7 linked regions of the Homo sapiens genome follow. The protein of the gene in region 5 purifies or fractionates together with the protein of the main gene of each other region. This does not show direct contact. Each region holds a gene or a part of one and is shown on either strand. Other genes may lie near its edges. The genes, in order: DPM1, ZC3H3, NDUFA10, SSU72, MIDEAS, AVL9 and KSR2.

Region 1 (3,500 bases), on a different chromosome or scaffold from region 5:
ACCATGTGGCCCAGGTTGCCCTCGAACTCCTGAGCTCAGGTGATCTGCCTGCCTCAGCTTCCCAGTAGCTGGGACTGCAGGCACGTACCACCATGCCCAGCTAATATATATAATATGAATATATATATATAATATGAATATATATATGAATATATATAATATGAATATATATGTATATGAATATATATAATACGAATATATATGAATATATAATATGAATATACATATTATATGAATGTGTATATATATTATATGAATGTATTTTATTTATATATATATATATATATATATATATATATATATATTCACTTTTTTTTTTGTAGTGATGGAGTTTTGCCATGTTGCCCAGGCTGGTCACTCCTGGGCTCAAGTGATCCAGCCATCTTGGCCTCCTGGGATTACAGGTGTGAGCCACCGCGCCTAGCCAGGTCTCCTTTCATTGACTAAAAATTTCTATTTTGTTCTAGATAAATAACATTTTTATGAAATTAATGTTACATTTATGAAATTAGTATAGCATTTTAACACTGTTCTTCGATGTGTTTCTCTTGTTTATAAATTGTATTTTGTAAAGAAGATCTGATTGTTTTATTTGGCAGCCGTGGGGCCAATTTTTTAACTCAGATCTTGCTGAGACCAGGAGCATCTGATTTAACAGGAAGTTTCAGGTACAGTGAAAATTTCCACTACTTTTATATAACTTCTTGGCTAACTTTCTTTACAATGGATATTTTAAAGAGACACTTTACATTTCTACCTTGTTTTTATTCTGGGATACTAAAAAGGCAGACTAAAATTCCTAGAAGTTGCTAATGAAGCCTAAACATCTCAAGGAGACATATTGTGCTTTTCCTTTAAAAAGCTGAAGGCAGTTAGGTTTGTGTGCTTGTTAACATTAGTATTAAGGCTCAACTGCTCTTTGGAATGTTGCTATTACTGATAATCTGTTCCAAAGAATAGCATGTACTTAATTTTCTGCATTTCATATGAATACCTACAGCATTGTCTACAGAAAAGGTTAAACTCTTTAATATTTATATAGAGCTCTCTCAGTTACCTTGTTCTCCATATGTTTGAGGAAATTTTTGTTGTTCAATTTGGACAAAGCTTCGGTCCCTCTGAGTTTTGCGTGTCTGTTTCTGGGTGTATGGGGTGGTGGTCTAGATTTGCTGTAGTAGATGTGAGCTGCTTTGTGTGACTGACCATGGCAAATGACAAAACTTGCCAGATTTTTTTTTTTAATCTCTGAAACTATAAAATGCCCCTGCATCTACTTTAGTGACCCCCAAGCCCCCCAAACATTACTTAATAATTTCTACTAGTTGATACTTTTTTCCACTAAATAATGTTGATTCTTGGGTCCTTTGCTTAATGCAGGAAAATCTAGGTCCTTAAATGTGAGAATTGACACACACACACACACACACACACACACACACACACACAAATTAGGACCTGGCTGTTGACAGTCAAAAAGAAAAATGAAGCCTCTCTAGAACTAAAATGCAAATAGACTGGAGAGCTGAACTTGGGGATGAAAGAGAGGGGAGGCTATACCCTAAGGCTAAAGAGTCATTTGTGATATGATTAAGATCTCTGATTGCGGATGGGCGTTGGCTGGTGGATGGGCAGTGGCTTGCGCCTATAATCCCAGCACTTTGGGAGGCCGAGGCATGTGGATCACTTGAAGTCAGGAGTTTTAAGACCAGCCTGGGCAACGTGGCGAAATCCTGTCTACTAAAAATACAAAAATTAGCCAGGTATGGTGGCGTACGCTTGTAATCCCAGCTACTCAGGAGGCTGAGGCAGGAGAATCACTTGAGACCCAGAGGCAGAGGTTGCAGTGAGCCGAGATTGCGCCACTGCACTCCAGCCTGGCGACAGAGGAAGACTGTCAAAAAAAAGCCAGGCATTGTGGCTCACACCTGTAATCCCAGCACTTTGGGAGGCCTAGGCAGGTGAATCACAAGGTCAGGAGATCGAGACCATCCTGGCTAACAGTGAAACCCTGTCTCTACTAAAAAATACAAAAAATTAGCCAAGTGTGGTGGTGGGCCTGTAGTCTAAGCTACTTGGGAGGTGGAGGTTGCAGTGAGCTGAGATCGCGCCACTGCACTCCAGCCTGGGCAGTAGAGTGGGACTCCGTCTAAAAAAAAACAAAAAAAAACAAAAAAGATCTCTGATTGCCATGTGGCAACAATGCAAAGAATAGTGGCACTCACAAAATCTCTGTACAGCGGGAAGGGCCAGTGTGGATTTCACAGGCCACAGTTTTGATGGTTTTGAATAAAAACCTAGGGTAACTGGTAACTAGTTGTGAAGATAGAGGCTGTGAAGAAAAACACAGCAGGGAGAGGAATGGGGTGAGGGTGGTTTGCTGCATCAGAACCATACAAGGATTAGTGGAGGGGATGGGGGTTGAAGGATGGCCTGGGAGTTCTGGATTTTCATGTATTGACAGCAATGATTAGCTGTGTTCTGTATAAATGACAGAGCAGCCAAACAGACAAAAGTGAACCTGTTAATTGCACAATTTTTTTTTCTTTTTTCTGAGACAGGGTTTCGCTCTTGTTGCCCAGGCTGGAGTGTGCAATGGCGCGATCTTGGCTCACCACAACCTCCGCCTCCCAGGTTCAAGAGATTCTCCTGCCTCAGCCTCCCGAGTAGCTGGGATTACAGGCGTGCGCCACCATGCCTGGCTAATTTTGTATTTTTAGTAGAGATGGGGTTTCTCCACGTTGGTCAGGCTGGTCTTGAACTCCCGACCTCAGGTGATCCTCCTGCCTCCGCCTCCCCAAGTGCTGGGATTACAGGCATGAGCCACTGCACCCAGCCCAAAAAATTTTTTAAATAGGCTGGGCGCGGTGGCTCACGCCTGTAATCCCAGTACTTGGGGAGGCCGAGGCAGGTGGATCACAAGGTCAGGAGATCGAGACCATCCTGGCTAACATGGTGATACCCCGTCTACTAAAAATACAAAAAATTAGCCGGGCGTGGTGGCGGGCGCCTGTAGTCCCAGCTACTCGGGAGGGTGAGGCAGGAGAATGGCGTGAACCTGGGAGGCAGAGCTTGCAGTGAGCCGAGATTGCACTGCACTCTAGCCTGGGCGACAGAGTGAGACTCTGTCTCAAAAAAAAAAAAAAATTTTTTTTAATAGTTAAATCTCATTGTCTTCTCATAAGAGTGGTGGTTTCTTAAATACATGCATTAAAGTTCATTTGTCGCTAGACAAAGCCCATTTTTGTCATTAAATCCCTAGATTTAGGAAGAAGGTGCTTTTTACAAAATAAGAAAAGGAATCCTGGAAAGGCTACAGTCAATATAAAGCCATTTAATAGCATAGACCACCTGGATCCTAATCGCATTTATGGGATTATATGGCTTCATGTAACATTTTATTTTACTAGCCACAGTGTTAAAGTTACCATGTGGATGGGGAGGAAGGAGGTGGCAGTGAAAAGAAATATCTTAGAAAATGATTCTTAAGGGGAATAAAGCAA
Region 2 (3,500 bases), on a different chromosome or scaffold from region 5:
CAGGTGCAACCGTGGCGAGCGCTGCCCCTACATCCACGATCCCGAGAAGGTGGCCGTGTGCACCAGGTGCCCTCCTGCCCTCGCTGTGGGCCTGGGGGAGGTTCTGTGCAGGGCCCTGCCCTTGGTCCCTGCCGGCCCTTCCTCATACCCGTTTCTCCTGGTGCTGCAGGTTTGTCCGGGGCACCTGCAAGAAAACGGATGGGACCTGCCCCTTCTCCCACCATGTGTCCAAGGAGAAGGTGAGTGCGGCGCTGGTGGCCCTGCTCCCGTGCACCTTTCTCCGGGGCCTCAGCCACCTGGCCTCCGGGCAGATGGTGCCCACAGCTTTCTCTGGGTTTGGGACATGCAGATCCCTGCCCTGGCGTCCTTAGAGTCTGCTGTACCGTCTCTACCCCATTGCAGGCTTTGCAGCTGGGCTTCCTCTTCCCCGGAAAGCAGCGCTGATAGGGTCTCTGCTCACCACGCACAGGGGTCTCTTTTCCCTTCTCCTGGCAGCACCAGGCCTCACCAGATCCCCAGGCCCCCCTTACACATGCCTAGGGGAAGGTGGTCCCACAGGTGCCCCTGTGGACCCAGGGCTGAGGCCTCAGGGCCTCTTCAGACTGGGGTTGGCAGGAGGGGGGAAGCTGTATGTGAGGGGGCTGGGTGGAGAGGCTGCCTGGGCAGAGGGCGGGAGGGAGGGGCTGGAGGGAGAACAGCTGGACTCCTGGCTCATGTGGTTGTCCCCGCGGCCTGAAACCCAACAGACTTGCTTTGAGCCAAGGTGGGTCCCCTGCTGGGAAGCAGCAAGAGAGCCCTGGGGCTGGGGGGGACATGTGTAGCTCCTGTGCCCCGGACTCAGCCACGGTGTGACCACAGCATGCGAGTGGAGTGAGGGCTGCCTTGGGTGAGGGAGGCGGTGTTGGGCAGGGGTGCTGCTGCCGCAACAGCTTTTCCCCTTGAGGAACTTGAAAAGAATCAGCATTTTTCTCCCTAATAGAGCTTCGGAACTCTGTTGTGAGCAATTTGGAAATTCACATCGAGTTTCGGGTTCATTAGCTCCCAGCTCCAAAGCCAGAGCACATTCCAAGCTGTCTAATGTGGACGCCCCGCACCAGTGCCCTGAATTAATGTTATTGTTATTTGTGTGGACGTGGCGGGGTGCAAACAAGGTTAATTGAAATGAGAATGCAGTTTCCTCTTGATAACAGCCCCGCTCTGACAGCCAAGAGGAGCTCCGTTTGCTGTAGAGTTGGCTTTATCATCCCTTTTTATTAGAGCTAATTTGGGCTCTATATCAAAAACCACATTAAGGGAATTGTCTACAGCCCACCACCGCCAGCCCCAAACGGCCCCCAGCCCCTCTCCCCTCTGCGGCTGCAGTTAAAAGACAATTAGAAATAAACTCCCGCTCGTTAAATCACCCTTTGTTTCTTTGCCTTCTCCCTCCCTCCCTCTCAGCCCTGGCCGCTGGCTCTCTGGACCCCTTCTTCCCTCCTTGGCCTTAGACAAGTTCCTTTCCCATCCCCAACCTTGCCCCAGAAAAGTGACTTTTTAAAGCCTCTGGGTCTGCCCAGATCCCCCAGGGCTCCTCAGGCCCCAGCAGCTCTGAGCAGGCTGGGAAGGGGAGGGGGACAAGGGTAGTGGGAGCAGGGAGGGTGGTCTGACCCAGGAGGGAGGAAGGCCCTGGGAGGGGAGCGGGAATAGCCTGGGGCAAGACTGGAGACCCTGGGGTGCTGGCAGGGGCTCTGTGGGGGCTCCATGCTGAGGCTGGACGGTGACATCCTTGTTCTGGACACCCAGGCAGCCCAGGAAGAGCCCGTGGTGGCCCATGAGGGGCAGGGAGATGTCTCCTGGAGATGGCAAGAGACCCCCTGCTTCCCTCCCTGGGTGGCCCTAGCCCAGCCATTGCTCCTTAGGCCTGAGGTTCCCCCAAATGGGAGGAAAGTTACATTTTTTCCCTCTCCCAGCCCAGTGGTGATAACAAGCACTGACTGTGGCCAGCGGCCCTGTGCTGGGGAGGAAGACGCTGCTGGACCCTTCCTGCTGACAGCCTTGGCCTCCACGGTGCTGGCCTGCAGCCAGTGCCACACCAGCCCTGCTTCCAGGTGGCTCCTGCCCACCTAGAGCCCAGGGACACTGCCTGTGGCCCACGGGTCAGGTGCCTGGAGAGGGAGAGCCCTCTGTTGGCTGCTGGCCCGTGGCTCGTCCTCCCACCTAGACACTGGTCCCCATGGCCTGAGAGGCTCCAAGGGCAGCCCTGGCCACAGGCTAGTGGTTGGGAGCCCTGGCTGCCATCTTGCCCTGGACGGTGGGCAGGCTCAGAACAGGTGAGGGACTCAGAGGAGGGCGCCCCTGAGGCTGAGCCACAGGGCTACAGGGCTGCTCCATGCCTCCTCTGGACAGAGCACGGCAGGGGTGTGGCTCACCTGGGGAGGCTGGGGCCCACTTCTGAGCAGCAGCTTCCCTGCCCCGCAGGTCGTGGTGGCTGCCCTTCCTGCCTGCTGGTGCCGCGTGTCCATTTCTCTCTCGGGCGGGGCCGTAGGAGGGTCCCCAGCCACCGTCTCTGGGCCCTGGAGGGTGGCTGCCTGCTGGCCCTCACTGCCGGCCCTCCCTGCAGATGCCGGTGTGCTCCTACTTCCTGAAGGGCATCTGCAGCAACAGCAACTGTCCCTATAGCCACGTGTACGTGTCCCGCAAGGCCGAGGTCTGCAGCGACTTCCTCAAAGGCTACTGCCCCCTGGGTGCAAAGGTGAGTGGTCTGTGGGGGCCCGAGTGGGCGGGGTTCCTGTGGCTTGTTGGTCCTCTGCTCACTCCTGGGTACCTGCCGTGGTGGCTGGATGACCCATCTGCAGCCCTGAGGTGGTCAGTGCCATCACGTCCACCTCACAGGTGACTCAGAGAGGTCCAGCAACTTTCCCGGGGTTGCACAGCACCAACACAGGGCGGGGTTTGAACCATGGGAAGGTGAGGCGCAGAGGACCTAGACTTCCAGGTGCAGCACTGGTAGCCCCAGGAGCTGGCCCCCCATGGTAGGGGTGTGGTGACTGGGCCGGAGCAGCTCCTGGGATGTTGCTGGGGGCGGCAGTGCAGTGAAGGGGATATTGGAGGCCAGGGAGCCCGCAGGGCTGCAGGATGTGGGGCCAGCAGCCTCCCCAGGAAGGCAGGGGGTGGACGGGACACTCCCACCCAGCCTGGGGCAGAGGGGTGGGCCAGGCAGAGCCAAGGGGGCCGCCTGAGCCGTGGCTGGCAAGGGTGGAGTGAGCTGGCGCTGGAGCTCATTGCGGGGCACCACTGCTGGGTGGAGAATTGGGGACCTGGGCTGTAGCTGATGGCTGCGGCTCCCCTCTTCCTAGGGGCATGACTGACTCCTGTGTTGCAGAGGCACTCACAGGCTCACCTGTCTGGGAAGTTCCCGGCAGTGCAGCCAGCTCCTCCCCTCTGCCTCACCTGCCCTCCTGGGCTTCAGCAGGACTCCCCGCCACAAGCAGCGTGGCCTCAGCATCTCCAGTGGGCCTGGT
Region 3 (3,500 bases), on a different chromosome or scaffold from region 5:
AACAGGGTGGTGAGTAGCTAGGGGTGACAAAGGGCCTCTCTCGGGATGAGGCCTAAGTGAGGCCAGGATTGGGTCCTGTGGGCCGTGGGGTGAGCAGAGGGCAGGGGCTTGGCAGGTGCAGAGGCTCTTCAGGCAGGAGTGTGGTGGGAAGGTGCGCCCAGCAGCCAAGCCAGTGTGGCCAGAAAAAGTGTGGGGAGGGGAGGCCACAGCGGAATGGAGCAGGACTAGGAGAGGAGGCCATGGCGGAATGGGGCAGGACTAGGAGGGGAGGCCGCGGTGGAAGAGGGCAGGACTAGGAAGGGAGGCCACTGCAGAAGGGGGTAGGACTAGGAGGGGAGGCCACAGCAGAAGGCGGATAGGTCTTGGTGCGTTTGGTGGGTTTTCTTCTGATGAGATGAGATGCCGTTTGGGGGTTTGAAGCAGAGGAGTAATACGATATGACTTATATCCATTCAGCTATTGTGTGGATTCTTTGGTATCTATTAAATGAAAAACAAAAACCATACCGATTAGGTAAGGTTGAAAAAAGCTGTCTTCATCTGCACCACTCTATTGAAACTGCTCCTGCCAAGGAGACGGCCTCGCCATTCCAGATGCGGCAGACCCTTGTCTGTCTTCATGCTGCTCCCTGGCCCTGGAAGCAGCACCGCTGCCCCTCTTCTCCACTCCCTTCTCCTGGTTCCATGCCCTCCTCCTCCCCCACTCTCTCACTCCTCCACCAGCTGCTGCCTTCTGGGGCCGGGCTCTCTTTTTCTGGTTCCTTCTGCCTGCTGCTGGGCTCTGGCAGGCACAGTGACCCCGGGCAGTGTCTCGTCCGTTGAATTCAGTTTCTTGAGGACGTACCTAGTCACACAGCTGTGGATAGCGTGGATACCACCGTAGGTCTTGGCCCAGACCTTTACCCTGCACACCCAGCAAATATCCCTCGGCTGCCTCTTGCAGTGTCTCTGTGCATTGACCTTCCCACCGGTGATCCCCAGCTCTGCCTCTTCTGTCCTGGCTGGTGCTGGCCACCCGGGAATCTCATCCTGCTTGGGTCTGTCCTCCACCACCCACCCCCTGCTGCTTCTCATCACTGCAACGCCCAGTTCCTGGTACAGGCCTCATATCCAGCGTGCACTCAGGAGATGTATCTGGAGTGAGTGACTTTGATTTCTTTTAGGGCTATAAATTCTACAAAATTCAGAGATGATTTTGTAATGAGAAGTGCTGTTGTATCATAATTCTGATTATTTATAAATCAAGATTGGAGTAATTTGAGGGTCTTTGACTTGTGAAAATGCAGGAAACATGAGTAGCTATTTGGGGATCTGCCTTTTGTGTTAAGTCTCGAGCCCTTGGCCTGAGCCTGCCCTGTGCTGCTTCCTGCCTCTACCCAGGATGCTCTGTGCAGACTGCACCAACACTTTGCCTCTCGAGGGCCTGGAGGCACAAGGATGGCCGGGGCACTCAACTTCCCTCTCCTCAACGTTTGGATGTAAATTAGGAAGTTGGTGCCTACAGATGGCAGCTCTGTTCTTGGCCCTGTGATGTTGGTGTTCTTAGGCCGTTGGTGCTTACCTTCTTTCTCTGCCTGATGGGATGTGAGTGATACAGTAGTCTCCTAGGATGACCAGAGGGACAGCTGGCTCACTGCACATGTCACTAAAAGTTCACTGATCAAAATGTAAACAGAATGTGTAATAAGTTTACTTCTGGCCAGGCAGCGTTCACGTCTGTAAACCCAGCACGTTGGGAAGCTCAAGTGGGAGGATTGCTGGAGCCCCGGAGTTCGAGACCAGCCTGGGCAATATAGTGAGACCCCATCTCTACAAAAAATTTAAAAATTATCTGGGTATGGTGGTGCATGCCTATAGTTTCAGCTACTTGGGAGGTTAAGGTGGGAGGGTCACTTGAACCTGGGAGGTTGAGGCTGCAATGAGCTGTGTTCACGCCACGGTACTCCAGCTTGGGCGACAGAGACTCTGTCTCTCAAAAGAAGTTCACTTCTGTTTGATGTTTTTAGTACAGCATTAATAAGCAAAAAATAGGTTTACATTAAAAAAAACTAGTCATTCTACTTAGTTTGTTAATTCCTGCCCCCCTGTTAAAATAGTATTTGCAAAATCAGTTTTCTAGTTAGTGGAATGGATACTGAAGGGTGAGCAAGGTAGGCACACTGTGGGGTCCTCATGTCAGACTGAGGAGACGGGAAGGGTCAGGTCAGCCCTTAGCTGGCTGTGTGACTTGGGACAAGTCACTTTATCTGCCTGTGCCTCCATATGTAAGATTATGGCAGTGAGGTAGAGTGCTAGGCCATGTGTATTGAAGGAAAAAACAAATATAAATTTCATATATTATATTCCATATACTGACTACTGTATAAAATGGTGTTAATCTAAAAGTAGCTTACTGAAATGATTGGCTCTCTAGAAAGTCTTTTGAAAGGAATCTAGCAAATCTTCCATTAGAAAGTAAAACAAACAACAAAACCCGCTTTCCTTGTCTTTTTTTTTTTTTTTTTTTTTTTTTTGAGTCAGAGTTTTGCTCTTGTTGCCCAGACTGGAGTGCAGTGGCGCAATCTCAGCTCACTGCAACCTCTGCCTCCTGGTTCAGGCGATTCTCCTGCCTCAGCCTCCTGAGTAGATGGGATTATAGGCATGCACCACTATACCCGGCTAATTTTTTGTATTTTTAGTAGAGACAGGGTTTCGCCATGTTGGGCAGACTGGTCTTGAACTCCTGACCTCAGGTGATCCACCTGCCTCGGCCTCCAGAAGTGCTGGGATTACAGGCGGGAGCCACTGCGCCGGCCTTCCTTGTCTTTCTGAGCCATTACTAGGAGATGGAAGTAAAGCACAAAGCACTGCTTTTGGCCTCTGAATAAATATTCTGCATCCTGGAGACAATGGCCAAGGGTTACAGTGCCTACTCCAGGTGGACAACACATTTCAACCTGAGGGCCGTGAGTTTGCTGATTGACAGGGCGACCGACCAGAAATTAGAGGGGTCCTCTGAGGTGTCTGAATGTAGAAGTTTCTCTGAGTCATTGAAGTCAGCTGATTATTCCCTGTGCAGCCATTTTTGTTGCAAAGTCAGTGTGTGCTTTGCTGTGAACTGTGGCAAGGGCCATCAAACATTGGTTTATTCCGAGTAATTTTAACTTTAGGACAGGGATGCGTAGGTGATGGAGACCAAGAGGAGAAAATAAAAGTATATTTCTGAGAAGAAAATGATTGTTGTAATACCAGAGACTCACCATTTCATAACCAGGTCAGAAGGATCCCTTGAGAGGGACTCAGCCACTCACCTGTCACTGTGCCCCTGGGCAAGGGGCCTAACCTCTCTGAGCCTCTGTCTCCTTGTTGTAAAGCAGGAAGAAAATAGAAGCTACCTCATAGGACTGTTGTGGGGATTAAATGTGGGAATAATTTGAAAGGCTCAGAACCATGTGTATATATCATAAGTACTAAAGTTTTAGGGACTATGTTATGATACTGTTTATGGTATATTATTATACT
Region 4 (4,115 bases), on a different chromosome or scaffold from region 5:
GGATTACAGGCGTGAGCCACCGCGCCCAGCCCTAAATAGAATTTTTAAAACATTTCCTTTTGTTAAGATTTCTACTCCATCTTGCCAGGCGCAGTAGCTCACGCCTATAATCCCAGCACTTTGGGAGGCCCACGCAGGCGGATCACGAGGTCAGGAGATCGAGACCATCCTGGCTAACATGGTGAAACCCCGTCTCTACTAAAAATACAAAAAAATTAGCCGGGCGTGGTGGCGGGCGCCTGTAGTCCCAGCTACTCAGGAGGCTGAGGCAGGAGAATAGTGTGAACCCAGGAGGCGGAGCTTGCAGTGAGCTGAGATAGCACCACTGCACTCCAGCCTGGGCTACAGACTCCCCCTCAAGAAAAAAAATATATATTCTACTCCAACTTTATTTTATTTATGTATTTATTTGAGATGGAGTCTTGCTCTGTCGCCCAGGCTGGAGTGCAGTGGCATGATCTCGGCTCAATGCAAGCTCCGCCTCCTGGGTTCATGCCATTCTCCTGCCTCAGCCTCCCGAGTAACTGGGACTGCAGGCGCCCGCCACCACGCCCGGCTAATTTTTTTGTATTTTCAGTAGAGACGGGGTTTCATCGTGTTAGCCAGGATAGTCTCAATCTCCTGACTTTGTGATCCGCCCATCTCGGCCTCCCAAGGTGCTAGGATTACAGGTGTGAGCCACTGCGCCCGGCCTACTCCATCTTTGTTATGCAGGTACAGCAGAAAATCTTGAACAAAGGATCACCAAGGAGAACCAGCAGAACCAGAAGGTCTCCAGCCCATTTGTTATTCCAATTAACAATAATTTTGTCTTGGGGGGGGGGGGGTGAGCCTTGCATTGTTTTGCTTAAATGTATCAAATTTTTACAGGTAACTGCAGTTTATAAATGAAGATCCAGCACAATGTAATTCTAGCACATTTCTAGTTTTAAAAACAACCTTTGGCCGGATGCGGTGGCTGACGCCTGTAATCCCAGCACTTTGGGAGGCCGAGGCGGGCAGATCACCTGAGGTCAGGAGTTTGAGATTAGCCTGGCCAGCATGGTGAAGCTCCGTCTCTACTAAAAATACAAAAAAAGCCGGGCGCAGTGGCTCACGCCTGTAATCCCAGCACTTTGGGAGGCCGAGCGGGCAGATCACGAGGTCATAAGATCAAGACCATCCTGGCTAAGATGATGAAACTCCGTCTCTACTAAAAATACAAAAAAAAAAAAAAATTAGCCGTGCCTGGTGGCCGGTGCCTGTAGTCCCAGCTACTCGGGAGGCTGAGGCAGGAGAATAGCTCGATCTCGGGAGGCACAAGTTGCAGTGAGCCGAGATCGCGCTACTGCACTCCAGTTTGGGCGACAGAGCAAGACTCTGTCTCAAAAAAAAAAAAAAAAAAAAAAAAAAAGAAAGAAAAGAATAAAGAGAAAGAATCAGCAGATCATGAACACTTGACACTGATTTTTGGGGGGTGTTTTTTGGTCTCCAACTCCTGACTTCAGGTGATCCGCGTGCGTCGGCCTCCCAAAGTGCGGGGACTACACGCGTGAGCCACCGTGCCTGGCCCACGTGACACTGTTAAAAACGGAAAAAAAAGGGGGACTGTTAATTTTCCCAAGTTGCTCAGGAAAGTTATAGCTGGACTGCGAGAAGAGAAGCGAAACACTGTTTTCATTTAAAGTTCACGTAGGTAACTTTGGAGGTAAAAAAGCCATTTCAACTTTCTTACTATCAAAGTTGACACATACCAAATTTTAACTGTAAGTCAAGTGGTCAGTTTCTCAGTTTGCTATGTGACTGAACAAAAAACTTGTTATCAAGCAGGAATAAACTTTCATTAGACATACGCTACGCAAGAGTCACAGGCGGCCAGTTAGCAGGGAATATAAACTAGCAGAGCCAAACCAAGTCCACGTTGTATTCCAGAAACTACCGGTTGGAGGCGTTCCAGGGAGGAAGAGAGGATCTTTCGCAAAAAAAAAAAAAGAAGAAGAAGTAGCAAACACACAAATCCATGGCATTAAAAAAAGAGACCGCTTTGTTATTTACAACATCGTGGTATGCCGTGATTGTGTTGCGCGCCGTTTCCAGGGAAGGTGGCCAACGACGCACACGAAATACCATGATCGGCCGCCGCCGCGCAGCCCCTCGCCGCGGACGCTACCCTCGCCCCCCGGGCCCGGCCTCGGAGAGCTCGAAGGACCACCGGACAGCGGGCGCCTCGTCCCGGAACCTGCCTTCCCTGTGATGCCCACCCGCGTGTGGACTACGCGCGCTGCCGTCCAGCTGCCATCCCAACCAGCCGACCCACGAGCGCGGCCCGGCCCGGCTTCCTCTCAGGGGTCCTGGCGCGGGCCAGGGGGAACCGGGGAGGAGGGAGGGCCGGTCGCCGGAGCAGAGCGCGCGGGGACAGGGTGGAGCCCAACTACCTGAGGATGTTGTGCGCCTCCATGCTCCGGTTCTGGTTGCTCGAGCACACCACCGCCACCCGCAGCGGGGACGACGGCATGGCGGCGGCCGCAAATCCCGCGGCTCTCCCGCTTGGGTTCCCACCCTACCGCGGCGCTTCCGCGCGAACAAAATGGCGGCCGCGGTGGCCGGAAGCGGGCGACGCGAAACGACGGCGCCGGCGGTGTAGCGTGCGGCGACTGCGCGGCGGCCTCCCCGCCCACCCTGGGCGCCGGGCCGCGGACGGAGCGCAGGCACTGGCCTTCGGGCGCGCTGCACTCGGCGAGGCCGGGGGCGGCCAACGCCGCGCCGGCCCCCGGCGTCCGCAGCAGAGACCCGCACTCCACAAGGCCCGGCTGAGCGTCACGGCGCCAAGCGGCGGCGTCCTGACATCAGCACCCCGCGCCGGCGCCTAGTGTGACGCGACGACGTGCGGAACAACAGGACGTCATAAGGTGTCGCCGCCGCCTTTGGGAGCGATGCGAAACGCCGCGCTTGCCGGAGATAGCATTGAGGGCCCTTCCGCGGCCCGGCGTTTCGTCTCTTGGGACGATTTTGTGCGTTCCCTCGGTCCCCGTGGGGCCCATAGTCCTCACTTCTGCCACCCCAGAGTCGTCGCGCTTCACTAGACCCGCTCCCTCCACTGTCCCGGAGGCCCACAGACATTCCCGCATTCTGAGGCTCGCTCCCGTCCCGTGCCGCTGTTACCGGCCTCCGGCCCCGGCTCATACAAGCAGGAGCACATCGCTCTTTTATGAAAGCCCTTCAACATTTAACGTTTAAATGCGAGGGCCGACCTGTGACAGACCTGGTTGGGAGTGCACGTCGACTAGGATCTTCCTCGCCTCGGGCTTCCTTGGAGAGGCCGCCGGCTGGTCTGAGATTTGGGTCCAGTTACAGTAAATCCAGTCAACGCGAGTGTGTCATTCCCCAGCTATGCCTGTCTGCCTGGATGCAGCCTCGCGGTGGACAGTGGGCTGATGTTTTGCCGTGGGAGCGCCACGGACGGGAGAGGGAGTGATAATGATTGTCAACCTAATAACAGGCTAACTGAAAATGATATTTATTTGGGAATAGGGCGTTGGCGAATATGCGTGCCATAGTAAACGATTTGCGCATTCAGGAAAGTAATGGTTTTTAAAGAAAAAATGAAGAGGAAGATAATGGTTTGGAAATAATTAACCTTGGCTACAAAGAACAGTAACAAGTGTACTCCCGGCCGGGCGCGGTGGCTCACGCCTGTAATCCCAGCACTTTGGGAGGCCGAGGCGGGCGGATCACGAGGTCGGGAGATCCAGACCGTCCTGCCTAACCCGGTGAAACCCCGTCTCTACTAAAAATACAAAAAATTAGCCGGGCGTGGTGGCGGGCGCCTGTAGTCCCAGCTACTCGGGAGGCTGAGGCAGGAGAATGGCGTGAACCCGGGAGGCGGAGCTTGTAGTGAGCCGAGATCGCGCCACTGCCCTCCAGCCTGGGCGACAGAGCCAGACTCCGTCTAAAAAAAAAAAAAAACAAGTGTACTCCCGTTCCAGGGTTGGACAGGCAGTTGCTGGGCAGCTGTCCTTGCTGAAGTATTTTTTGTGTAAGATTGCCTTAGTGCAAGGTTGTGGTTTTTGCAGAATCTTGTGATAGTTTTTCTTATTATTGATTCATGAGAATTCTCCATGGCCTTTCCCAGCTGT
Region 5 (3,500 bases):
GGGCCGAGGCCCAGGACTGGGCCAGCCTGGCTCCCGCGCTCAGCCCTTGTCGCCCGCACCGCTCTCCTCCCGCAGGGCCTGCTGGTGGGCGGCGGCGGCGGCAGCAGCGGCCTCTTTCTCCTTCAGCCTCAGCGCTGCAGCCTTCTTCTCCTGCTCTGCGTGGCTCTTCATATGCGCACTGCGGCTCTTCACCTTGTAAAACACCCTGCAGCCGGGTGGGGGTTGCTCAGAACCGGCCTAGCCCACCCGGGGGCCCCCAGCGCGGGTGCGCGAGGAGCCCCAGCCTTCACCTTCACCCCCACGCTGCACAGCCGCGGCCGGCCAGCTCGCGTCATTTTCCGAAAGCTGCCCCATGACGTCACAGCCCTAGAAACCCGCTGAGCCAACCAGAAACGAGGCGGACACCGCCTGTACCTCTTCCCCCTCCCCTCCACCCCACCCCCGCCCCCTCCGCGCACCAGCCCGCGGGGGTCCCAGCGGGGACAGCGCTGCCCACCTTACCTGCCACATTTTTTACAGGGGAAAGTGTTCTCCTGATTCTGGGTCTTACTGAATGTCTCTGTTTTTTTCTTCTTCTCTGAAAAAGGTAGTGCCCTTCGTGACTTCCCTGTCCCTTCCCTTGGCTTCTCCGAGGCCTGGCCACCGGCAGACCCAGGGGCGTTGGACTCGTGGCTCCGGAGGATGAGGATGTCACTGGCCTGAAGAAAATCAAACAAGGAGAGTTGAGTGATCTGAGCAAGCGCAGATCTGGAATTCTAAAATCGCAGGGAACCGGGGGCCTGAAAAGTCATATATATTCCTGCCAAACAGTCACCTAGCATGCACTTGGGTCCTTCCAGGGATATGACGACCATTGCCTCCTCCAACTCTGCATCTCTGGTCAGCTCTATCGTTTACAAAGTTGCTGCTAGAGTAATTCTGTGGGGCAGCCCGAGCTGCTAGAGGCCTTGATGCGCCTGACAGGGGATCTTGGTCTCTGGGTTAATGAAGCACCTACCTGTTGATGTTTTCTGTCATTTAGTCCGCTCATGCCCTGTTCTATAAATGAGATTCAGGCCCCTGTGATGGGCCAGATGCTAGGGACAAAGAGGTTGACACAGGCATCCCTGCCCTCAGAGCTGAGGATCTGGTGGAAGGGACAGATGCGCAGGTAGCTACTTCAGGACAGCGCACTGCAGGGACACCAAACAGGGCAAGGGCAGGGGTCAGAGTGCAGAGCAGAGGGAGCAGAGGTGACCTCGGCTGGGGAAGCCCCGGGTGGCCATCAGAAGTGGCACCCTCATGGGAAAGTTCACAAAAGTCAACAGAACTCTGTAGAGCGCTACACAGAGCACAGCTCTTGGTGCAGGTGGTCGAGGCTCAGAAGTGGGCACACAGCCGTGTGTTTACAGTTTATGGGAGCTCTGTAAGCATGAGTGTACTACACACATTCCTTTTTTTTTTTTTTTTTTTTGAGATGGAGTCTTGCTATGTCACCCAGGCTGGAGTGCAGTGGCATGATCTTGGCTCACTGCAACCTCCGCCTCCTCCACCTCCTGGGTTCAAGTGATTCTCCTGCCTCAGCCTCTGGAGTAGCTGGGATTACAGGCGTGCACCACCATGCCCAGCTAGTTTTTGTATTTTTAATAGAGATGAGGTTTCACCTTGTTGGCCAGGCTGGTCTCGACTCCTGACCTCAGGTGATCCACTCACCTTGGCCTCCCAAAGTGCTGGGATTACAGGTGTGAGCCACTGCGCCCGGCCTACTACATACATTTCTAAAAAAAAAGACTCTAAAAAAGCAGCAGCTCCCCAATAAACCCCTTCCCCTCCTTACCCCTTTCTGGGAGAACTCTCCCTGGCAAGGAGCAACTATGGCCAGTAGTCTTGTTTCTTGGCCTGTGATATGGTGGACAGAGCACTGCACTAGGAGTCCAAGGACCTGGGGCAAGTCACTTAGCATCTCTGAACTGCTTTCCCCCATCTGCAGAGTAGAGGTTAACTCTGCAGTGTGAGGAACTAATGAGATAATGGAAATGAAAGCACTTTGCAGAGATCATGCCTGAGGGCCTATGATTGTCATTCCCATGGTCTCAGCTCAGTCTCATTCTTGTCAGGGACTCTGGCTCTCTTAGGGGAGCCCTGTCTGCAAACCACCAATGCTCCCTCAGTGACCCACATACCTACTGGGTTTTCACAAAACCTTTTTCCCTCTGAATCTCAGATACAGAAGCAGTAGAGTATAAAAATTAATCGCAGACTCTGGATTCAGGCTGCCTACTAGCTGTGTTATCTTGGGCCACAATTTCCCCATCTATAAAATGGGAATAACAGTAATACCTAACCACATAGGGTAGTGAGGATTAAATGAGTTAACAGCACAAAGTACTTCACACATTTCCTGCTATTATGATTATAATGAGGATCACAGTCCTGCTCTACCCTCCCTCCCACGCCCCCAGGCCCAGCTCCACCCTGCTTGCCCTGGGCTCAGCCCATGGTGGTCACACTCACCGACTCATTGGCCTGTAGTGTCTGCGTGGCTTTGACTGCCGCTGCCCGCCTGCTGCGCTCTCGCCCCTCTTCCTGCTCCTCCTTCTCTTGGATCTCTGGCACCTCCTCCTCCCCCTCCTTCCTGGGCTCCTTCACCTCCCTCTTGGGCTCCAGCCTCTCTTCACTTGGGGACTCTCTTCTGGGAAGAGGCACCCTTGGGAACTTTTGGGAAGTCTATGGGGAACAAGAACAAGGGCAGTGAGCCTAGAGCTCTGTCTCACTGCTGTAGCACAGATTCTGACCCGGCCGGGGGGTTCACCAGCCCCAGCTAGTCCTGCTCGCCTGGCTGGCCCAGCATAGTCTTCTGTACTAGGACTCTGGACTCTGTCCCCATGGCATAGTAGCCATGGGGACAGAAGAGTCTCAAGCCCTGGGAGCACCTGAGAGAGAACGAGGGGCAAGGAGGGTACATACCAGTCACTCCCCATTGCCACCCATCCTCCTGGACAGATGACCAGGAGGCATCCTCGGCAATGATGTGGTGAGCCAGGCAGAAGCCTTGAGTTCCAATTCCAAACTATCTTTGTAATGCTTTCTGTAGCTCTACTACCTTCCTGCCTGCAAAATGGGCAGCAAACCACTCCCTGTCTTACCGTAGCATGTCACCAAGCGTGGATTTGCAATCCCAAAAATGATGCTAGGTGGATACATGGACATAGGATTAAGTAACCTTCCCTTTTAATTCTCTTTCAATCCTGATTATGCCAAGGACTCAGTCTCTGGTTGCTGCTAATGTGTCTTTTATACTTCTCTAGACTTGATAATCTCTTTAACAAAGCAAGGTCAGCCCTCAGTCTCAGCCTTGGCAGGTAACACAGCATCTAGCTAGAATTCAGTAATACTGGTTTTCACATATATTTTTACCAGTACCTTCTATTTATAGCACACAACCTTGGTTTTCTATTTATCACTGTGATATAAAACTTCCCTTCTGAGTAAAAAATGAGTTGACTTAAAGGAAAATATTA
Region 6 (3,500 bases), on a different chromosome or scaffold from region 5:
CCATGCCCAGCCCATAATATTCTTTGGAGATGAATATCATCACTGTTTATGGCTGCAGGTTCATTGTATGGATGAACATTTATTTAGTCCCCTATTCATGAAGAGTTTGGATTCGAGTTTTTTGGTATTGCATTTATTTTCATAAATATAATATCACATATGATATAATATTTGTAGGATACTGTAGGATAAATTACAAGTAGAATGCTGGGCCAAAAGGCATACATATTTATAAATTTTTAAAGGATTTTTAAACATTTCTTGAAAGCTTTGACCTACTTTTTAAAAACATACTTTTTAGTTTTGTTATTATTATGAAATATAATACTGATTCTGAATGAGGAGCCTGGGTTGAGAAGCTCTATACTGAGCATCTCTAATGCAAAGGTATAGATTTATTTTTGCTGCTTCTGTTAGGGTCTGATCAAGCAACAAAAGACATTTTCAAGAGTAAGAATATAACCAAATTACCAGACATATATTCCAACTTTTGGAAGTCTTCCCTTTCATGTTAAGTATTTAACAACCACCTGTTAGTTACACACAAAGCGCTCTCCTAGTTGGAATAAAGAATATCAAGTTGCAAAGCGGATATCCCCTGCCTTCAGAGAGATTTGTCTCATGATGTAAACACGATATTATCCAGATGACATAATTCTGTGTTTTAAAAAGTGATGAGATGTAAAAAAATAAAACTTATAGAACTTGAGGCTGAAAACAAGTTGAGGGGCTCAGTGAGTCTGCCTTCCTGGCTGTATATACAAGTCATGCCACTTGTTGAAAACCCATTCTGATTTAGAATCTTTCAGCAGAAATTGCATATCTTCCTTCAGTCAATCATTCCAGTGTTAACACTTGTACTCTCAGGAAGTATGCTGGATTTTTTCTATACTTAGATGCCTGCTGCAGTTTAGCAATTCCACTGTAATTTTTGGAGCAATGCTGTTTTCAAATAAAATTCAAATGGAAATTAATTAAATACACAGATACTACCAGTGTCATTTTTGCTTTAAATATTTAGTAACAAATATCTTGAAATCTTTTTGCATGATTTTTAACATAGGACGGTATAACAAATGCTATGTAGTACCTTGCTGTTCTCCTAATAGTGCTTCGGTGGTTATGTGCAGATGCATGTATTTTAAATTTTTAACAGCCTTCTACTAAACAACGTACTTACTAACAGGCTTAATGCTTCATTTCCTAAGTGAAAAGGTTCAATTCATTAGTTACTGTGGAGACTTTTAAATTGAATGAGAACAAAGTGATCAAGAAAGACAACCTTCATATTAAACCACCTTGCCAAGATTTGACCATTCATGGAGACAATTAGCTAATCATTAACTGGACTTACTGTAGTCAAGACTTGAAGTTCCCCTGGAATATTATTTTATTGAGTCAAAGATTAGCTGACTTACAGACAGGGCAAGGAAGAATGGAAGTTTCTTTTCCTACTGTTAGCTCACTAAGTTTAAAGAGAAAGGTAACCTTTTACTTTTCTGATATTTTCTATTACTCTTCTAATTCATAGGGATATCTGTGTTTGCCTTACATGGCATTGCAGCAGCATCATCTTCTCTCCGATGTCACCGTTCGGGGGTTTGTTGCTGGAGCTACTAACATCCTTTTTCGACAACAGAAACACCTCAGTGATGCCATTGTGGAAGTACGTTTATGTGTGAGTGTGTGTATTTGGCCCTGCTCATCCCAGTTTTCCTTTCTTAACTACAATTATGAATACATAGTAACAACATTAGTAATGATAATAACTGCATACTGTATGCCATGTATTCTAAGTATTTTATGTGTATTAACTGGTCTAATTCTCATAAAAACACAGTCAATAGCACTGTCCTATCCACATTTTATACCTGCAGAGGCTAAGTAACAGAGAGATGAAGTGATTTGTACAATATCAAACAGCCAGTAAACAGGTAAACCAGGATTCCAACCTGGGCAACTGGGCCTACCACTACCTCATGATTTTTAACATGTGTTTGTTGTTTAAGTAATTTCAATCCTTCTAGCCTGTTTAGAATGCTCTTGATACCAAGACGAAAGCTAGGAATAAATATTTGACATCAATATATACGAAATTCAAATCATTTGTTATTTTACAACTGAAATAATCTTTTTTCTTTTTTTTTTTTGAGACAGTTTCGTTCTTGTTGCCCAGGCTGGAGTGCAATGGCGCGATCTCGGCTCCATGCAACCTCCACCTCCTGGGTTCAAGCAATTCTTCTGCCTCAGCCTCCTGAGTAGGTTGGATTACAAGTGCCCGCCACCACGCTCGGCTAATTTTTTCTATTTTTAGTAGAGATGGGGTTTCACCATGTTGGCCAGGCTGGTCTCGAACTCCTGACCTCAGGTGATCCACCCACCTCGGCCTCCCCAAGTGCTGGGATTACAGGCGTAAGCCACCGCGCCCAGCCTGAAATAATTTTTGAGAAATTTTATGAGGCTCGGCGCAGTGGCTCACGCCTGTAATCCCAGCACTTGGGGAGGCCGAGGTGGGTAGATCACCTGAGGTCAGGAGTTCGAGACCAGCCTGGCCAACATGGTGAAACCCCATGTCTACTAAAAATACAAAAAAATTAGCCAGACATGGTGGTGCATGCCTGTAGTCCCAGCTACTCGGGAGGGTGAGGCAGGAGAATCACTTGAACCTTGGAGGTGGAGGTTGCAGTGAGCCAAGATTGCACCACTGCACTCCAGCCTGGGTGACAGAGTGACCCTGTCTCAAAAAAAAAAAAAAAAAAAGCCAGCTGCAGTGGCTCAAATCTGTAATCCCAGCACTTTGGGAGGCTGAGGCGGGTGGATCATGAGGTCAGGAGTTCAAGACCAGCCTGCCCAACATGGTGAAACCCCGTCTCTACTAAAAATACAAAAATTAGCTGGGCATGGTGGCAGGTGCCTGTAATCCCAGCTACTTGGGAGGCTGAGGCAGGAGAATCGCTTGAACCCGGGTGGTAGAGGTTGCAGGGAGCCGAGATCGTGCCACTGCACTCCAGCTTGGGCGATAGAGTGAAATTCTGTCTCAAAAAAAAAAGAAGAAAAAAAATTCACCCACACTAAGGTTTTTGTAGTTTCTGACAGAAAGTATGAAAACATGTTTCTTGGGTGAATGGTTATAATATAATGAAAGTCCAGGATTCAAAGATGTATTTATTATAATCCCAAATTTGAAGAAGAAAAAGTACATTTTCCAAGACAGGAGGATACAGATGGGAGGACCATAAAGCTGCTTCAACATTATTGGTTACATTCTAGTTCTGTAGTTGGTTGGTGGGTGCGTAGGAATTTTTTTTATTATTATACTTCAAAACTAACCTGTACGTTACATGTATTTTTTAGTATATCAAATATTACATAATAAGACATTCTAAAGTATCTGGCCGGGCACAGTGGCTCACGCCTGTAATCCCAGCACTTTGGGAGGCCAAGGTGGGCGGGTCACAAGGTCAAGACATCGAGACCATCCTGGCTAACATGGTGAAATC
Region 7 (3,500 bases), on a different chromosome or scaffold from region 5:
ATTATGTATATTTTATCACCATTTTAAAAAGGCAGGATTCTGTAAGTGAAGGGTTGGCACACTTTTTCTGTACAGGGGCAGATAGTAAATACTTTAGGCTTTGCAGACCATTCAGTCTCTGTTGCAGTTACTCAACTCTATCATGTAGCACAAAACCAGCACAGACAATAGGTAAACAAATGGGCATGGCAGTGTTCCAATAAAACTTTATTTATAAAAACAGGTACCTGGCCCAATTTGGCCCATGAACTGTGATTTACCAAGCCCTGTCTGAAGCCGTAGTGTAGAGAGTGATCTCTTTTCTGAAGCATTGGGAATGCCCTACAGTGATTGACGTGGAACATGTGATTTTACAACAGTCATATTTAAGCTGCTATGTGAAACCTAGCTTGAAGACGTAGAATGCATGTTTGAGACCTCTGAGGGTGAAGCAGAGGATAGATGCTTTTCTGATTGGAGTTGTGTTTGATTTGCATGGTTTTGTGAGAGCCACAGAGATTGGGGCCTGCTGAAACCTCAAGGTGAAGATGTGGGGTAAAGTTCCAGGAAGGCTGGGAGTGCAGGTTGCTAAGGTGGAGGGTGGAAGAGGCATTTGGGGTTTGGTTGCTACGGTGGCCCCACACTTTGTGCTTCTCCCTGTCCCTTTCCCAGGGTGCACCACTTAGTAAGGCGAAACTTGATCAGAAAGCCGACTCTCCAGACACATCATCTTCTAATCTGCAAGATGGAGGCCAAGTGAGAGAGGCTGCCCTTTGGTTTTTAAATGCTGTCCTTTCCCTAGACCCCTGAAGGATTTATTCTGCCTGGATAGGGTTGAATGGCCCACTTCTTCAAGGCCTTCCAAATTGACTTGGCCACCTTTAGTGTTTTTTGGAATTTGTGTATCAGGACTCAGGTGGCGTTAAGCTTTGCCCTTCAGGTTTCTTCTGGCTGAGTTAGCAAGCTCATCACTTCCTCAAGGCTGGTAGTTCCCTGGCCCACCTTGGGGGATGCTGTGGTTCATGGCAAGGAAGCAGTAGAGGAGAGGAACAGAGTGGTCAGTTTGGTGATGTGGAAAATGCCGTGGGACCACTTAGCCTGGGACCATGCCTCCAGGTTCACAGGGATATCAGGGCAGCAGGCCTGGGGGTGTTAAAAAAACTAAAACATAAATAACAGCAACCTGAATAATGTTGGCAGCGGGGGTCATGGGTAGAGGTGAATTCTGATCAGGATTTATAAAGGAGGCGTTAGTTGAGGTGAGTCCCAATTATTAGACTGATAACAACAGTCATCATTTACCTGGGTCTAAACTAGTCCTGATCCTGCCAGGAAGTAGCCTTTTGACCTTGGATTTAACCTCTCTGAATCTTAGCTTTCTCAGCTGTGGACCCAAGAGGTTAGAATACATTTGTGTTTTTAAATTTGTGGTCATGACCCATTTGTGGTTGATAGCATTATTTTAATGGCTTGTGACCAGCATTAAAAAAATGAAATAGACTAGCCTAGACTAGAGTATATTGGAACACATTGCATCTGGTAAGCGTTTTAGTGTTGTTTTGTAAAACTTGTTTTCAGTAAGTACAGGCATACTTCAGAGATATTGTGAGTTTGGTTCCAGACCACCACGATAAAGATCCCAAAGTGAATGACACGAATTTTGGGTTTCCCAGTACATAGAATAGTTATGTTTTATACCATACTGTAGTCTATTAAGTGTATGATGGCATTATGTCTTAAAAAACAATGTACATACATTAATTTAGAAATACTTTAATACTAAAAAACACTAATGATCATCTGAGCCTTCAGTGAGCCATACTCTTTGCTGGTGGAAGGTCTTGCTTCAATGTTGATGGCTGCCGACTGATCAAGGTGATGGTAGCTGAAAGTTGGGCTGATTGTGACAATTTCTTAAAATACAACAATGCAGTTTTCTACATAGATAGACTCTTCCTTTCACAAAAAATTCTCTGTAGCATGTGATGCCGTTTGATAGCCTAGTAGAACTTCTTTCAAAATTAGAGTCGATCCTCTCAAACCCTGCCACTGCTTTGTCAACTAAGTTTATGCAATATTCTAAAATGTTTCTTGTCATTTCAACAATGTTCAAGGCATCTTTACCTGGAGTGGATTCCATCTCAAGAAACCACTTTCCTTGCTCATCCGTAAGAAGCAACTCCTTGTCTATTTAAGTTTTATCATGAGATTGCAACAATTCAGTTATATCTTCAGGCTCCACTTTTAATTCTAGTTCTCTTGCTGTTTCCACCGCATCTGCAGTTACTTCCTCCATTGAAATCTTGAATGCCTCAAAGTCATCCATGAGGGTTGGAATCAACTTCTTCCAAACTCCTGTTAATGTTGATATTTTGACCTCCTTCCATGGATCACGAATGTTCTTAATGGCATCCAAAATGGGGAATCCTTTCCAGAAGATTCTTTTTTTTTTTTTTTGAGATGGAGTCTCACTCTGTCACCCAGGCTAGAGTGCAATGGAGCAATCTCGGCTCACTGCAACCTCCACCTCCTGGGTTCTAGCAATTCTCCTGCCTCAGCCTCCTGAGTAGCTGGGATTACAGGTGCCCACCATCATGCCTGGCTAATTTTTGTATTTTTAGGAGAGATGGAGTTTCATCATGTTGGCCAAACTGGTCTTAAATTCCTGACCTCAGGTGATCCACCCACCTCAGCCTCCCAAAGTGTTGGGATTACAGGCGTGAGCCACTGCACCCGGCCTCCAGCAGGTTTTTATTTTACTTTTCCCAGATCCATCAGAGGAATCACTATCTATGGCAGCTATAGCCTTATAAAATGTATTTCTTAAATAATAAGACTTGAAAGATAAAATTACTCCTTAATCCATGGGCTGCAGAATGGATGTATTAGCAGGGATGAAAATCACATAATCTGTTTGTACATCTTCATCAGAGGTTTTGGTTGAGCACATGCATTGTCGATGAGCAATAATATTTTGAAAGGAATCTTGTTTTTTCTAAACAGTCGGTCTCAACAGTGGGCTTAAAATATTCAGCAAACCATGCTGTGAACAAAAGTGCTATCATCCAGGCTTTGCTGTTCCATTTATAAAGTACGGGCAGAGTAGATTTAGCGTAATTCGTAAGAGCCCTAGAATTTTTGGCATGATAAATGAGCATTGGCTTCAGCTTAAAAGTCACCAGCTGCGGTAGTCCCTAACAAGAGAGTCAGCCTGTTCTTTGAAGCTTTGAAGCCAGGCACTGACTTCGTCTCTCTAGCTCTGAGAGTCCTAGATGGCATCGTTGAATATAAGACTGTTTCATTTACATTGAAAATCTGTCATTTAGTGTAACCACTTTCATCAGTGATCATAGCTAGATCTAGGTAACTTGCTGCAGCTTCTCCATCAGCACTTCCTGCTTCACTGTACTTTTATGTTATGGAGACAACTTCTTTCCACAAACCTTATAAGCCAACCTCTACTGGTGTCCACATTTTCTTCTGCAGCTTCCTCACCTCTCTCAGCCTTCATAGAATTGAAG

The links.
Region 1: the proteins of MIDEAS (region 5) and DPM1 purify together in Homo sapiens (affinity purification with mass spectrometry; one large-scale study listed by BioGRID and IntAct). This does not show direct contact.
Region 2: the proteins of MIDEAS (region 5) and ZC3H3 purify together in Homo sapiens (affinity purification with mass spectrometry; one large-scale study listed by BioGRID and IntAct). This does not show direct contact.
Region 3: the proteins of MIDEAS (region 5) and NDUFA10 purify together in Homo sapiens (affinity purification with mass spectrometry; one large-scale study listed by BioGRID and IntAct). This does not show direct contact.
Region 4: the proteins of MIDEAS (region 5) and SSU72 fractionate together in Homo sapiens (co-fractionation; one large-scale study listed by BioGRID). This does not show direct contact.
Region 6: the proteins of MIDEAS (region 5) and AVL9 purify together in Homo sapiens (affinity purification with mass spectrometry; one large-scale study listed by BioGRID and IntAct). This does not show direct contact.
Region 7: the proteins of MIDEAS (region 5) and KSR2 purify together in Homo sapiens (co-immunoprecipitation; one large-scale study listed by IntAct). This does not show direct contact.

Annotation. Positions count from the first base shown.
Region 1 is NC_000020.11:50,938,033-50,941,532, reverse strand, and holds part of DPM1 (dolichol-phosphate mannosyltransferase subunit 1), read left to right. Parts: intron 1-323; coding exon of another isoform or gene 324-428; intron 429-574; coding exon of another isoform or gene 575-599; coding exon 600-668; intron 669-3,500. UniProt on the Homo sapiens protein: Transfers mannose from GDP-mannose to dolichol monophosphate to form dolichol phosphate mannose (Dol-P-Man) which is the mannosyl donor in pathways leading to N-glycosylation, glycosyl phosphatidylinositol membrane anchoring, and O-mannosylation of proteins; catalytic subunit of the dolichol-phosphate mannose (DPM) synthase complex.
Region 2 is NC_000008.11:143,464,948-143,468,447, reverse strand, and holds part of ZC3H3 (zinc finger CCCH domain-containing protein 3), read left to right. Parts: coding exon 1-66; intron 67-169; coding exon 170-239; intron 240-2,599; coding exon 2,600-2,731; intron 2,732-3,500. UniProt on the Homo sapiens protein: Required for the export of polyadenylated mRNAs from the nucleus. Enhances ACVR1B-induced SMAD-dependent transcription. Binds to single-stranded DNA but not to double-stranded DNA in vitro. Involved in RNA cleavage.
Region 3 is NC_000002.12:240,001,343-240,004,842, reverse strand, and holds part of NDUFA10 (NADH dehydrogenase [ubiquinone] 1 alpha subcomplex subunit 10, mitochondrial isoform 1 precursor), read left to right. Parts: intron 1-3,500. UniProt on the Homo sapiens protein: Accessory subunit of the mitochondrial membrane respiratory chain NADH dehydrogenase (Complex I), that is believed not to be involved in catalysis. Complex I functions in the transfer of electrons from NADH to the respiratory chain.
Region 4 is NC_000001.11:1,572,064-1,576,178, forward strand, and holds the start of SSU72 (RNA polymerase II subunit A C-terminal domain phosphatase SSU72), read right to left. Parts: upstream 2,801-4,115; 5' UTR 2,495-2,800; coding exon 2,415-2,494; intron 1-2,414. UniProt on the Homo sapiens protein: Protein phosphatase that catalyzes the dephosphorylation of the C-terminal domain of RNA polymerase II. Plays a role in RNA processing and termination. Plays a role in pre-mRNA polyadenylation via its interaction with SYMPK.
Region 5 is NC_000014.9:73,718,804-73,722,303, forward strand, and holds part of MIDEAS (mitotic deacetylase-associated SANT domain protein), read right to left. Parts: intron 2,707-3,500; coding exon 2,494-2,706; intron 699-2,493; coding exon 502-698; coding exon of another isoform or gene 498-501; exon of another isoform or gene 206-497; coding exon 40-205; 3' UTR 1-39.
Region 6 is NC_000007.14:32,568,489-32,571,988, forward strand, and holds part of AVL9 (late secretory pathway protein AVL9 homolog), read left to right. Parts: intron 1-1,531; coding exon 1,532-1,666; coding exon of another isoform or gene 1,667-1,678; intron 1,679-3,500. UniProt on the Homo sapiens protein: Functions in cell migration.
Region 7 is NC_000012.12:117,755,991-117,759,490, reverse strand, and holds part of KSR2 (kinase suppressor of Ras 2), read left to right. Parts: intron 1-3,500. UniProt on the Homo sapiens protein: Location-regulated scaffold connecting MEK to RAF. Has very low protein kinase activity and can phosphorylate MAP2K1 at several Ser and Thr residues with very low efficiency (in vitro).